Linked DNA regions of Homo sapiens: region 2 is linked to region 1. Evidence: fine-mapped expression QTL. A gene starts in region 1. The other region holds a variant in brackets. All regions are shown on one strand. Distances are between the middles of the regions. Region 1 holds the start of ADO (2-aminoethanethiol dioxygenase). Region 2 has its middle 110 kb from the start of REEP3.

Region 1 (5,373 bases):
ATGCAGTAGGTTTTGACGTGATCTGGGAATCTGCACTTTTGACAGACACTCCCAAGTGATTCTGATACAGGCAGTCTTCGGAAACTTTGAACTCAGGCCAAAGGATGACTAGCAAATTACCAGGTAAATGGTTTAAGCAATAATCTTTTTTATCTCTACCCTGAAGCTGATTCTCAAAACAAGTCAAATTCCATTTCAATACTTGCTTAGTATTATTTAAATTCATTGGTCTTTAAGTACAACTTATAGCCATTTTAAACCTATAATAGCTACTGTCATGGGGCAGCTACTATGTTCTACATAGTGTCATCAGTGATTTACACAGGTATATTATCCCATTTTATAGATGAAAATTTTGAGCTTCAGTTAAGTAAGTGTGGACAACCATTAAGTGCAAGAGATCTGCATGTTAATATAGTCTGTGTTCCATGGAGTCTATACTTACCACTAATTATACCCTAATAGAAGTAAAACCAATAAATAAAAGTCCATATTTGTAAATAAAGGAAGGGGAAGAATTTTACTCTCAAATACTTCTCACTTTAGAAAAAAGACTGTATGAAATTTATTTATCAGCTTTGAAAGTACATTTAAATAACGTAACAATGGCATGGCAACCTCTAAAAATGAATCAGTCTTAACAATCCTTTCCTAAAGCAAATAACCACCCTCTTAACTAATGAAAGCTGGTTCACTATTTACAGCTCTACCAGTGGTTCTCAAACTGAGCTAATGATCAAGAATCGCTTGGACGAGCGCCGTGGCTCACGCCTGTAATCCCAGCACTTTGGGAGGCCGAGGGGGGCGGATCACGAGCTCAGGAGATCGAGACCATTCTGGCTAACATGGTGAAACCCCGTCTCTACTAAATATACAGAAAAAAAAATTAGGCGGGTGTGATGGCGGGCATCTGTAGTCCCAGCTACTCCGGAGGCTGAGGCAGGAGAATGGCGTGAACCCGGGAGGCGGAGCTTGCAGTGAGCCGAGATCGCACCAGTGCACTCCCGCCTGGGCAACAGACCCAGACTCCGTCTCAAAAAAAAAAATAATAATAATAATTGCTTGAGGAAGCATCTTAAATATAAATCATAGGGGCAACCCGCTGTGGTCCCCTTCCAAGCTGTGGAAGCTTTGTTATTTCGCTCTTCACGATAAACCTTGTTACCCCTCAAAACAAACAAACAAACAAACAAAAAAAAACCACACACAAAAAAATAGGCTTCACTCCAGTTCTTCTGAATCAAAATCTCTGAGGTGTGACCCCAAGATCTTTATTTTTTAAGCTCTCCAGGGGGTTCTGATGAGTAGGGTTCAGAACTTTTGTTCCCTTAACACCGGCATTCTACAAATGAATAAATTGAGGCCCTAAAAGGGTAGGATTTGCCTAACGACACACAGCTTGTAAGTACACACAGTAGGCTGGAACAACAATATCCTGACTCTCGTTTGGTGCTTTTACACCAATTCAAGCTGCTGTTTTTGGTAAGACTGTACTTATTTCTGCTCTGCTGCTCATGCTTTGCTGGGTACTTAGTATTCACTATCCTACAACTTATTCCCTCATCTGCAATCTGGGAATAATAATAGTGCCTGCCTCTTAAGAGTTGCTGCAAGGATTAAATAGTATAACATTCATTATATAATGCACTTAACACAGTGCCTGGCATATTGTGAGTACTCATTAGCCAGGTTATGTAATCCACTTTAAAAAGTATGCCTATTTTAACTGGAGAGGATTCACTGAACCACTCCAATTACAAAATGTACAAGAAACCCATGTTCAGCTTTGGAATCCAAAAAGACTTTAAACTCAGGGTTAAGTTTAAAGTCATAGTATCTAATGTCTTGCTTTTCTAGTCATTTACTTATGCCAAAAGTTAGTTCACGCCAAGGAGAAGGATGCCTCTGTGTAGTGAAACAATTTCACAATTACTGACTGAACTGACTGTTGCACACCACTATTTCTCCTAGGATGCCTCAGAACCATCTAGTAACTCCATCTCTGGGTGACGACAGGGAATCTGCATTTATAAAAGCCCGCTCCCCCTTCTCAGGCAAACCAAGATTTGATAACCACTAGTATGTTCAGAATCCACGACCACTGTAAATGGCCTCTCAAGTCTCTCCAGCAAAAAGCTATACTGCTCTGTAACCAGAAGAGCAGCGTCATCAGGTCCTGATGCAAACAACAGCTGGGCCCAGCTGGGCCCAGCTGGGCCGAGTAACCTTGATGATCACAGAGGACGGCCTGGACCCCCTCCCCTCCTAGGAAACACAAAATTATAAAAGCGCCCTCCTGCAATTCCCGTGGGAGACAGTGCTGCCTAGGCCGCTACGAGGAGCTAAGGCTGACTCAACAGCCTCCTTCCCAGGGGCAAGGCCAAAGGAAGGCGACCCTGCATGGCTAACCAGGCCCCAGCGCGGCGCCAGAAGGTTAACGACCCTCCCTGCCCCTTTCCTTATGAAGGCCAAGAGCCTCCACTACTCCGGGGGCCAGCTGACGGAAGTGCGTCACTCCACCCTGCGGGGAGTGCCGGGAGTTGTAGTCAAGTGGCTACTAATCTTCCACCCCGATTCATCTTTTCTAAAACAAGAAAAACACCTCTGCATCCTGAAAAAGATCGCTTTATGCCCAACATGTGTAATAGTTCCTCTATTTTCCAATCAACAAACTGAACTATCTCAGAGCTCAAGCGGAAGGCCGGACTACAAGTCCCGGCATGCTCCGCAGGGTCCCCGGGCGCCCGGCCACCGTCGTAGGTGCGGGCCGCATGAATGGAGCGCCGGGCGTAAGGCAAAGCCTGGCACCGTCTGCGCGGCCGCTATCTGCTCCCGGAGCGTGAGTGCGGGGTGTGGGGCGTGCGCGTGCGCGCTCAGAGGGGGCTCAAGGCGAGCGCGCCGGGCAGTTGCGGGCGCGTGGCTGCTGAGGTTGGCGGCGGTGCCGCGCGCCCGACGGGCCGGTGGTTGCGGGGCCTCCCGCCTCGACCCGGGCTGGGGGCAGCCGTGGCGGCCGCCGGGGACCGCAAGGGGCGGAGGAAAGGAGGGGGCCGGTCCCGGCACGCAGAGGAGCAGCCGACCATGCCCCGAGACAACATGGCCTCCTTGATCCAACGGATCGCCCGCCAGGCTTGCCTCACCTTCCGGGGCAGCGGGGGCGGCCGCGGCGCTTCCGATCGCGACGCGGCTTCTGGCCCGGAGGCGCCGATGCAGCCGGGCTTCCCCGAGAACCTGAGCAAGCTGAAGAGCCTCCTGACCCAGCTCCGCGCCGAGGACTTGAACATCGCCCCGCGCAAGGCCACACTGCAGCCGCTGCCGCCCAACCTGCCGCCAGTCACCTACATGCACATCTACGAGACGGACGGCTTCAGCCTGGGCGTGTTCCTGCTCAAGAGCGGCACGTCCATCCCGCTGCACGACCACCCGGGCATGCACGGCATGCTCAAGGTGCTGTACGGCACCGTGCGCATCAGCTGCATGGACAAGCTAGACGCGGGCGGCGGGCAACGGCCGCGGGCCTTGCCGCCCGAGCAGCAGTTCGAGCCGCCGCTGCAGCCCCGGGAGCGAGAAGCCGTGCGGCCGGGCGTGCTGCGTTCGCGGGCCGAGTACACCGAGGCCAGCGGCCCCTGCATCCTCACACCGCACCGGGACAACCTGCACCAGATCGACGCCGTGGAAGGGCCTGCCGCCTTCCTGGACATCCTGGCCCCGCCCTACGACCCGGACGATGGCCGGGACTGCCACTATTACCGGGTGCTGGAGCCGGTCAGGCCCAAGGAGGCCTCCAGCTCGGCCTGTGACCTGCCTCGAGAGGTGTGGCTCCTGGAGACCCCACAGGCCGATGACTTCTGGTGCGAGGGAGAACCCTATCCAGGTCCCAAGGTCTTCCCTTGAAGCCACTGGCGCCCAGGAGCGGTGGGCCGAAGACGTGCCCTACCCTACCACAAGGGCTGTGTCTCTACCCCCTAGCCTGGGCGTTGGATCTACTGGAATGAGCAGCAGCCGCTTCCTCGGCAGCCTTGGGAAGCACGGGCGACTGGACAGCAGCCGCCGGGCACGGTTATGGGGGCGGGGTGGGCGGGGAGGCTAGATTGTTTCCTGGTACTGTCACTGCCACTGGGGCTTTGATTTGGAGGAATGGGGCAGGGGACTATCTGAAGCGCTTCCATCCTAAAGCCATAATGAAAATATCTTCCTCTCTTCCCCATTCTATACAAAATACTAAGTGGTTTTCTTGCTCCCACTCCCTACCCCTTAGTTAAATAGGGTTTATTTTCCACTCATGCCCTTATGCCTTTTTTTCTTATAGTTTTTTAACTTATTGACTGTGCATGACCCAGTGGTTTGAATTGTTTTTAGTTCAAGTCATTGGTAAAAACTAGGTTTAAGGAGATGAGCTACTGTTTAAAGTGAGCTGGCCTGCCTAATTAATTCCTTGTGAAAACTAAATGATTTTTTCAGTTTGGGGATCATTCTCACAACATAACTATGCATGTAGAGGACAAGATTTATTTTCTTTCCTCCCTTTGCCCAGTAGCCACATCTGGTTTACTCAGGCAGCATCTACTAAGAAATTCAGCACCTGCATATCTCTGTGACATGGTCACTTAGAGCTTATCTTCCCTATGAATCTCCAGATCTGTGAGTCGAGCAGATTTCATGTTGCAGATTCACCTTTAATGCAAAGACTGTATTATCCTCACATGACTTTTTTTCTTGTCTTACTGTACCTTAAAAGGTGATAGAGTAATTCTGTATTTTCTAACGGGAAGATTCAAAGGAGCTGAATGTGTTATGCTTCCAAACAACTGAATGTAAAACACTCCTAGCCAGTTGTTGCATTCCCTATATTTATTTACTTCCAATATTTTACTGTAAAAGTAGGGAGAAATATTATGTTGATAGTTGTTTCATATTCTCTCAGGAACTTTAATGTTCCCGACTCGGGTGATTCCAGCTGTGTTGCTGGCAGTGTTGTCTCAACCCTCTCCCTAAAATGACTGAGCCCTGGGTTCATCTAATGTGGTTTTCCTTAGGAAGAGATAGAAGGCACAGAAGATCACAGCTAGAGAATTGAGAATTAACTATACTACTAGCCATTTTAGGGCACCAAAACTTGGGATTAAACACTTCCTACTTCCCACTCCCAACTCCTGAAATGAAGTCTTGCTATCTGTGACTAGTTTTATTTTTGTGCTTTTAATAGTCCGAGCAGTCTTACCTTGTTTACACATGTATTGACACCATTTGCTTCAGGCCATGGAGCACTGTTTCTCCCTTTTTACTATTTATAGGATTCCGTTTTTTCACAAGACTTTTAATAAAAAGAAATTGTAGAAATAAACACATTAAAATTTGCCCAGCTGTCGTCTAAGC
Region 2 (5,373 bases), 820 kb after region 1:
CAAGGTGAGTGGGTCACTCGAGGCCAGGAGTTCAATACCAGCCTGGGCAACATGGCAAAACCCCATCTCTATGAAAAAATACAAAAATTAGCTGGGTGTCGTGGCGCATGCCCATATTCCCAGCTAATTGGGGGGCTAAGCTGGGAGGATTGCTTAAACCTTGGGAGGTCAAAGCTGCAGTGAGCTGAGATTGTGCTGCACTCCAGCCTGGGTGACAAAGTGAGACCTTGTCTCAAAAAAAAAAAATTCCAAAAGAAACTCCACTTCAAAATATAAAGTCATAAATTCAGTATGTAGAAATTATAAATATTTTATTAATTTATCTTGTAACGAAAGGGGATGTTGTAGCACGTGATGTATTTGGAAGAAGAATTAATACTTTATAAGGCTTGTGATGCCCCTTACATTCAGTTGTGATAACCAACAGTAGTATATGTTTGTTTTCACACTTTGCGAAGAGGCATCATCCCGATTTTACAAATACGCAGAGACTCACTAGTGACCAACCTGTGACCGGGTGCAGTGGCTCATGCCTGTAATCCCAACACTTTGGGAGGGTGAGGCGGGCGGATCACTTGAGCACAGTTGGAGACCAGCCTGGGCAACATGGCAAAACCCCATCTCTATAAAAAATACAAAAATTAGCTGGACGTGGTGGCTGGCGCACACCTGTAGTCCCAGCTATTTGCGGGGCTGAGGCAAGAGGATCGCTTGAGCCCGGGAAATTGAGGCTACAATGAGCTGTGATTGCACCACCACACTTCAGCCTAGGTGACACAGTGAGATGCTGTCTCAAAAACAAAAACAAAAAACAGTGACCAACCTACGACCCAAGCAACCGCAATGTTTGTGACTTCGGACTCTGTTGTTAATTACGTCACAGTTGGTTGTCTTAGAGATCACAGAATACTTGGAAAGTTAACATGGAAATGATTCCTTCCATACATGTATTATATAATACAAAAGTTTCAGATTATCAGAATGTTAAATGAAGTAAAGTTGTTAAGTCATTGGAAGTTAATGGATTTGGTTTCAAGAGTAGCTTTAGTACAGAGAGAAAGGATGCTTTTAAAGTGAATAGAAAAAAATGAAGACAAATAATTTACTATCAGTTATGGACTAAGACAAACAGGAAGAATCTGAAGAGAGGATGCAGCTGAAACAGGAGGAGTATCCTCTCAGGAAGTGCTTTCCTTCCTTCCTCTCCTTTCCACCAACATTTGTTCCACGGCTTCCTCTCTTCAAACCACACCTTGTAAACCCTTTTATGTGCTCTGTTCACAACAAGAATTTCATGTGCTGTTCCATACTGGGTTTTAACTAATAAAATGCACACACACACACACAAAAGGCTAAATGCCTTTTTACACAGGAGATTAACTTTATTCAGTCTTTAAGCTGAAAGCAAGTACAGTTAGGATATATAGCAGGCGACAGTTTCCATATGTTCTAGGAAAGTGGAGCTGTATTATTTATAGTTTACAACATGTTGTATAAAATTAAAGCTAGCAAGGGGGCTCCCAGGGAGGTAAATTAAACAAAGAAGGGAAGACTTAGAGAACTCTATTTTGCTATAATCAGAGAACATGCCTATAAGAAAGCACTAAAAAAAATAATATTTAACATTAAACAATATGCAAAAGTACTTGGGGTGTTTACAATAGCTTAAATTCTAAAATTAAAAAGGACATTGAAGACTGAGAAGGGGAAAAACACCTTAATTTTGTAATCTTAATAGAAAGAAAAATGTGTCCTAAAAGCAGGAGTAAATAAATGTCATTAAAAAGGTGTATCTTCCAAAGTGCAAAGACACGTTACAAGAAATCAGGTTGCTCTTTGACCCACCAGTCTCAAAGCACATTAGACTGCAGCAAGTAATAATTGCTTCCTCATTTAGATTAGACAATGAGTGCTCTCTGCAAGCTGCTCTCCTCTAAATAGATTGTAGAGAGTAATTGAAACAAGTTATATGGGGAAGTGGAGTGACCGATTCCTCAAAGTGTGGGAGCAGAGCTATGGTAACCTCTTGAGCCTGGCCTTCATCCTGTTCCTATTTAGGGAATCCGCGGGGCAGCCAGTGTTGAGTGCAGTCTGCAGTTCGCCGGCTTTATTGTTCAGACTTGAAGAGAAGGTCACATGCCCTCTTTGACAGAGAGGTTTATGGGCTCTCTCTAATTAGCAGCACCCTCCACCAGACAGACTGTTGGCCACTTTCCAAGAACGGGACTTGGTAGCGGCCACTGATGAAGGAGAAAACAAGGTTATTTACCCTGCGACTGTAATTCTTGGCACAAATTCTCCCTTTACACTCAGACACGTTTTTTCTTTTGTTCCAACTTGCCTTTGGAATCCTGATTAGGGCGTTAAGAGAGGGAAATGCAGCTATATATTTAGTGGTGTAAGCAACCCATATGTTGGCCTTAGATACTTTTGACTATTCTAAGACCTCATACCAAAAGAGAGAAAGAAAAAGGAAAACGAAAAGGGCAGCGTAGTCGAGCGTTGCTTGCAAATGTAACTGCTTAAGCACATGCCCACACACAACTCCAGAAAAGGAAGTTTAATTTGCAACATCTATAAAATAACGACAGTTGTATGGTAGGACACAGAAATCCCAGCGGTAAAGTGTGATTGGGCTTAGCTATTATTGGAGTGTTAAAAGAGTACCGGGAATATATTTGGCTTGTCCTGTTCTGTCAGTTCT[G/C]TAGGCCGGTGGATTAAGCTGATAGAAATGCTTTTTGGTTGATTTAAACCAGATGCTCCGACTATTTTTGTCCCGTTTGCAGGCGCAGAAGCTCTGCATAAGGCAATACTGCCCCCCTCGGCCGACCGCCAACTGCAAGGCGTAGGAGACTGCTCTCCACTAGCCACCTCGGCCATAAAACCCTTTCAAGTCCCTATTATTATTCCAGGCACATTCCAAGGGGATTGAGTCACAGAGTTCACTTGGCTTTTCTCCTGCCCTGAACTGCCTGTACCAGGTGGAATACGACTCTCAACTTCAAATATGGAATCCAAAAGCAGTCAAAGAGCGCTTTAGAGCAAGCCCCAGATGCGAACTCTACTGCCACTTCTCCCCCTCCCCCAACTGGGGTTTGCTGGCTGCGCAGCTGTAGTCCCACGCCAGCACTAAGGTCGCCTGGTCGACAAATGAGGGTTTTCTTTGGGGCATCCTGTAGAGCTGTCCTATTTTCTCTACCACTTTGAGAAGCCCCAAGGGCTGCTTGGCGGCGAGGCACAGACTGGGCTGAAAACTTTTCCGTTGGGCAGTGCGTCCCGGAGACCCAGGAGGCCCAGGCCGGGAGCCCAGGGGGCTGGAGGTTCTGCTGGCTTTTAAGTCTGCTAGGAGGGAAAACTCCCAGCCCCTCCCACGCGTCCTCCCAGACTCGCCGGCCGCCTGCCCCGGGCGGGGAACGCGCACATCTGGCGGCCCAGGAGCCACATCTGATGCACTAACCCCCGCACCCAGATGTCCAAGAGGCCGGGGGAGTCAAAGAACGCCAGGGGCGGGGCGACCGCGGCTGCGGCTCCTCCCTCGGGCAGAGGGAGTCCAGATGCGAGGGACGCCCTCCAGAGCCGAGCTGGGCCGGCCGGGCAGCTAGGGTGCTGGGAGGTTGCGGTGCAGGGTGGGTGGGTGCAGTGAGGCTGGAGCCACGCTGGGGGGGCTGGGCTGGCGGGGGGAGGCTGGAGCCGCGCCGGGGAGAGGGAGGCGGCGGTTGGGTGCTGGAGGGCGCTGGTGCCGTGCCAGTGGGCGGTGGCGCCTTACGCCACCCGCCCCACCCCCGTCACCGTGCCCGCCCCACTGCGTGGGATTTTACAACCTAGGTCCCCGGGAGGTGGTGGTGGAGGGAGGGGCGGCGGGGACGTTTCCGGGGCGGGGGAGGGGCGCACTGCTCCAGAACTGGACCGAGGGCGGGGCTCCCCTCTGCTTCTCCCCTCTGTTCCAGCGCTGAGACGCAGGCCTTTCCTGGCGCGAAGCGACTCGCCCCGGAGCTCCCCTGCACCGTCCTGGGTGTCAGGACGCGTCAACCCAGATGACCCGACCCGGAGATCCTGGATCCTCTGCCCTCTTCCCCCTACCAAGTCCTTAACCGGAGAGGGAGGAGCTACCAATGTCCTCCAGACGTTCTCCAAAGCCCGAGCTGCCGGGAGAAGCTTGCTCAAGGCGGGTGCGCCCCTCAGACGTTTGTTTGCACGCAGGGGTTTTGACGTTTCGCTAAGCAACAGCGTTTGCCAGGGAATCAGGGCTGTTTCGAAGAGCTTGCGTCTATTTGATGCTCCCATCTTGAACAAATCGTTTCCATTCGATTTGTTTAACCAAGGCGAGGGCGGACTATGTTGTTACTTAAAAGTTATTCTTCATCCAAGCTGTCCTCAGATTTTCATCTAAGGGTGTCATAACACCCCAGGTCGTTGCGCAAATGTTTTGTGACAATTTAGAAAACCAGAGGGGGGAAATATCCTTAGAGAAAAAATCATAACCAACAAGAAAATTATGTTAAATGATGTTGGTCCTTTTTCATCGGATGGTCCCAGTTGACACATAGTCTTTTACAAAACCAGTGACTATTCACAGTCTTCAATTTATGGCACATCTCCCGGTGGGGGCGAAGTGCATGAATGGGTCCCACCTTATTCACCAGCTGAAACTCTGAACAAGCCTTGGGGTTTCCTCTCCCAAAGACTGCCAGGCTTCACTAAGAATCAAAACAAAACAGGATACTAAATGCCTGCGGTAAGTTTTCAAATATGAGCTCTTCCATTGCTTATTTCTGTGAATTGTGGCAAATTGCATAATGTCTTTTGCCCCTGGTGCTGCTTAGAGACAGGGTCTCACTGTGTTGCGCAGGCTAAAGTACAATGGCACGATCCTAGCTCGTTGCAGCCTCAAACCCCTGGGCTCAGACTATCCTCTGGCCTCAGCCTCCCAACCAGCAAGGGTTACAGTCGCATGCCACCACACCTGGTTAATTTTTTATTTTTGTTTTTTAGAGATAGGGGACTCACTATGTTGCCCAGGCTCGCCTGAAATTCCTAGCCTCAAGCATTCCTCCCAGCTCAGCCTCCCAAAGTGTTGAGATTACAGGCGTGAGCCACCATGCCTGGCAAGCTTCATCATTTCTAAAATGTAACTGTATATTTTAGAGTAGCATAGGAGTGGTGTAAGGGTTAAGGATTAATGATACTGCAAATCAAGTGCTTAACACAAAGTTTAATGCATAGGAAGAACATAATTGTTATTATCAATGTGAGTAGACTGTTTACCACCAAAATGAAAGGTGTGGGCAATGGTAACTGGGTAGCCTCCAGAGATCCTTTTTTAAAAGGAGTATGAGTTTTAATACATTCGTTGAATGAATAAAACCCACAACA

Evidence for each region. PIP is the estimated chance that this variant, and not a neighbour inherited with it, causes the effect. A credible set is the group of variants that fine-mapping cannot tell apart.
Region 2: its variant is the best candidate, but not a certain one, in a credible set for the expression of ADO in esophagus mucosa (GTEx, PIP 0.53).

Annotation. Positions count from the first base shown.
Region 1 is chr10:62,801,982-62,807,354 of GRCh38, forward strand. ADO (2-aminoethanethiol dioxygenase) reads left to right here and starts at 2,739. Exons shown (of 1, transcript NM_032804.6): 1 at 2,739-5,373. The coding sequence starts at 3,079. The coding sequence ends at 3,891. RefSeq lists enhancers at 2,494-2,753, 3,224-3,343 and a silencer at 2,794-3,043.
Region 2 is chr10:63,626,745-63,632,117 of GRCh38, forward strand. No RefSeq gene overlaps it. Among named protein-coding and RNA genes, the nearest start is that of REEP3, 110 kb to the left of the region's middle. RefSeq lists enhancers at 2,272-2,481, 2,872-3,051, 3,062-3,111 and a silencer at 3,582-3,911. The variant G/C (reference allele first, on the strand shown) is at 2,705.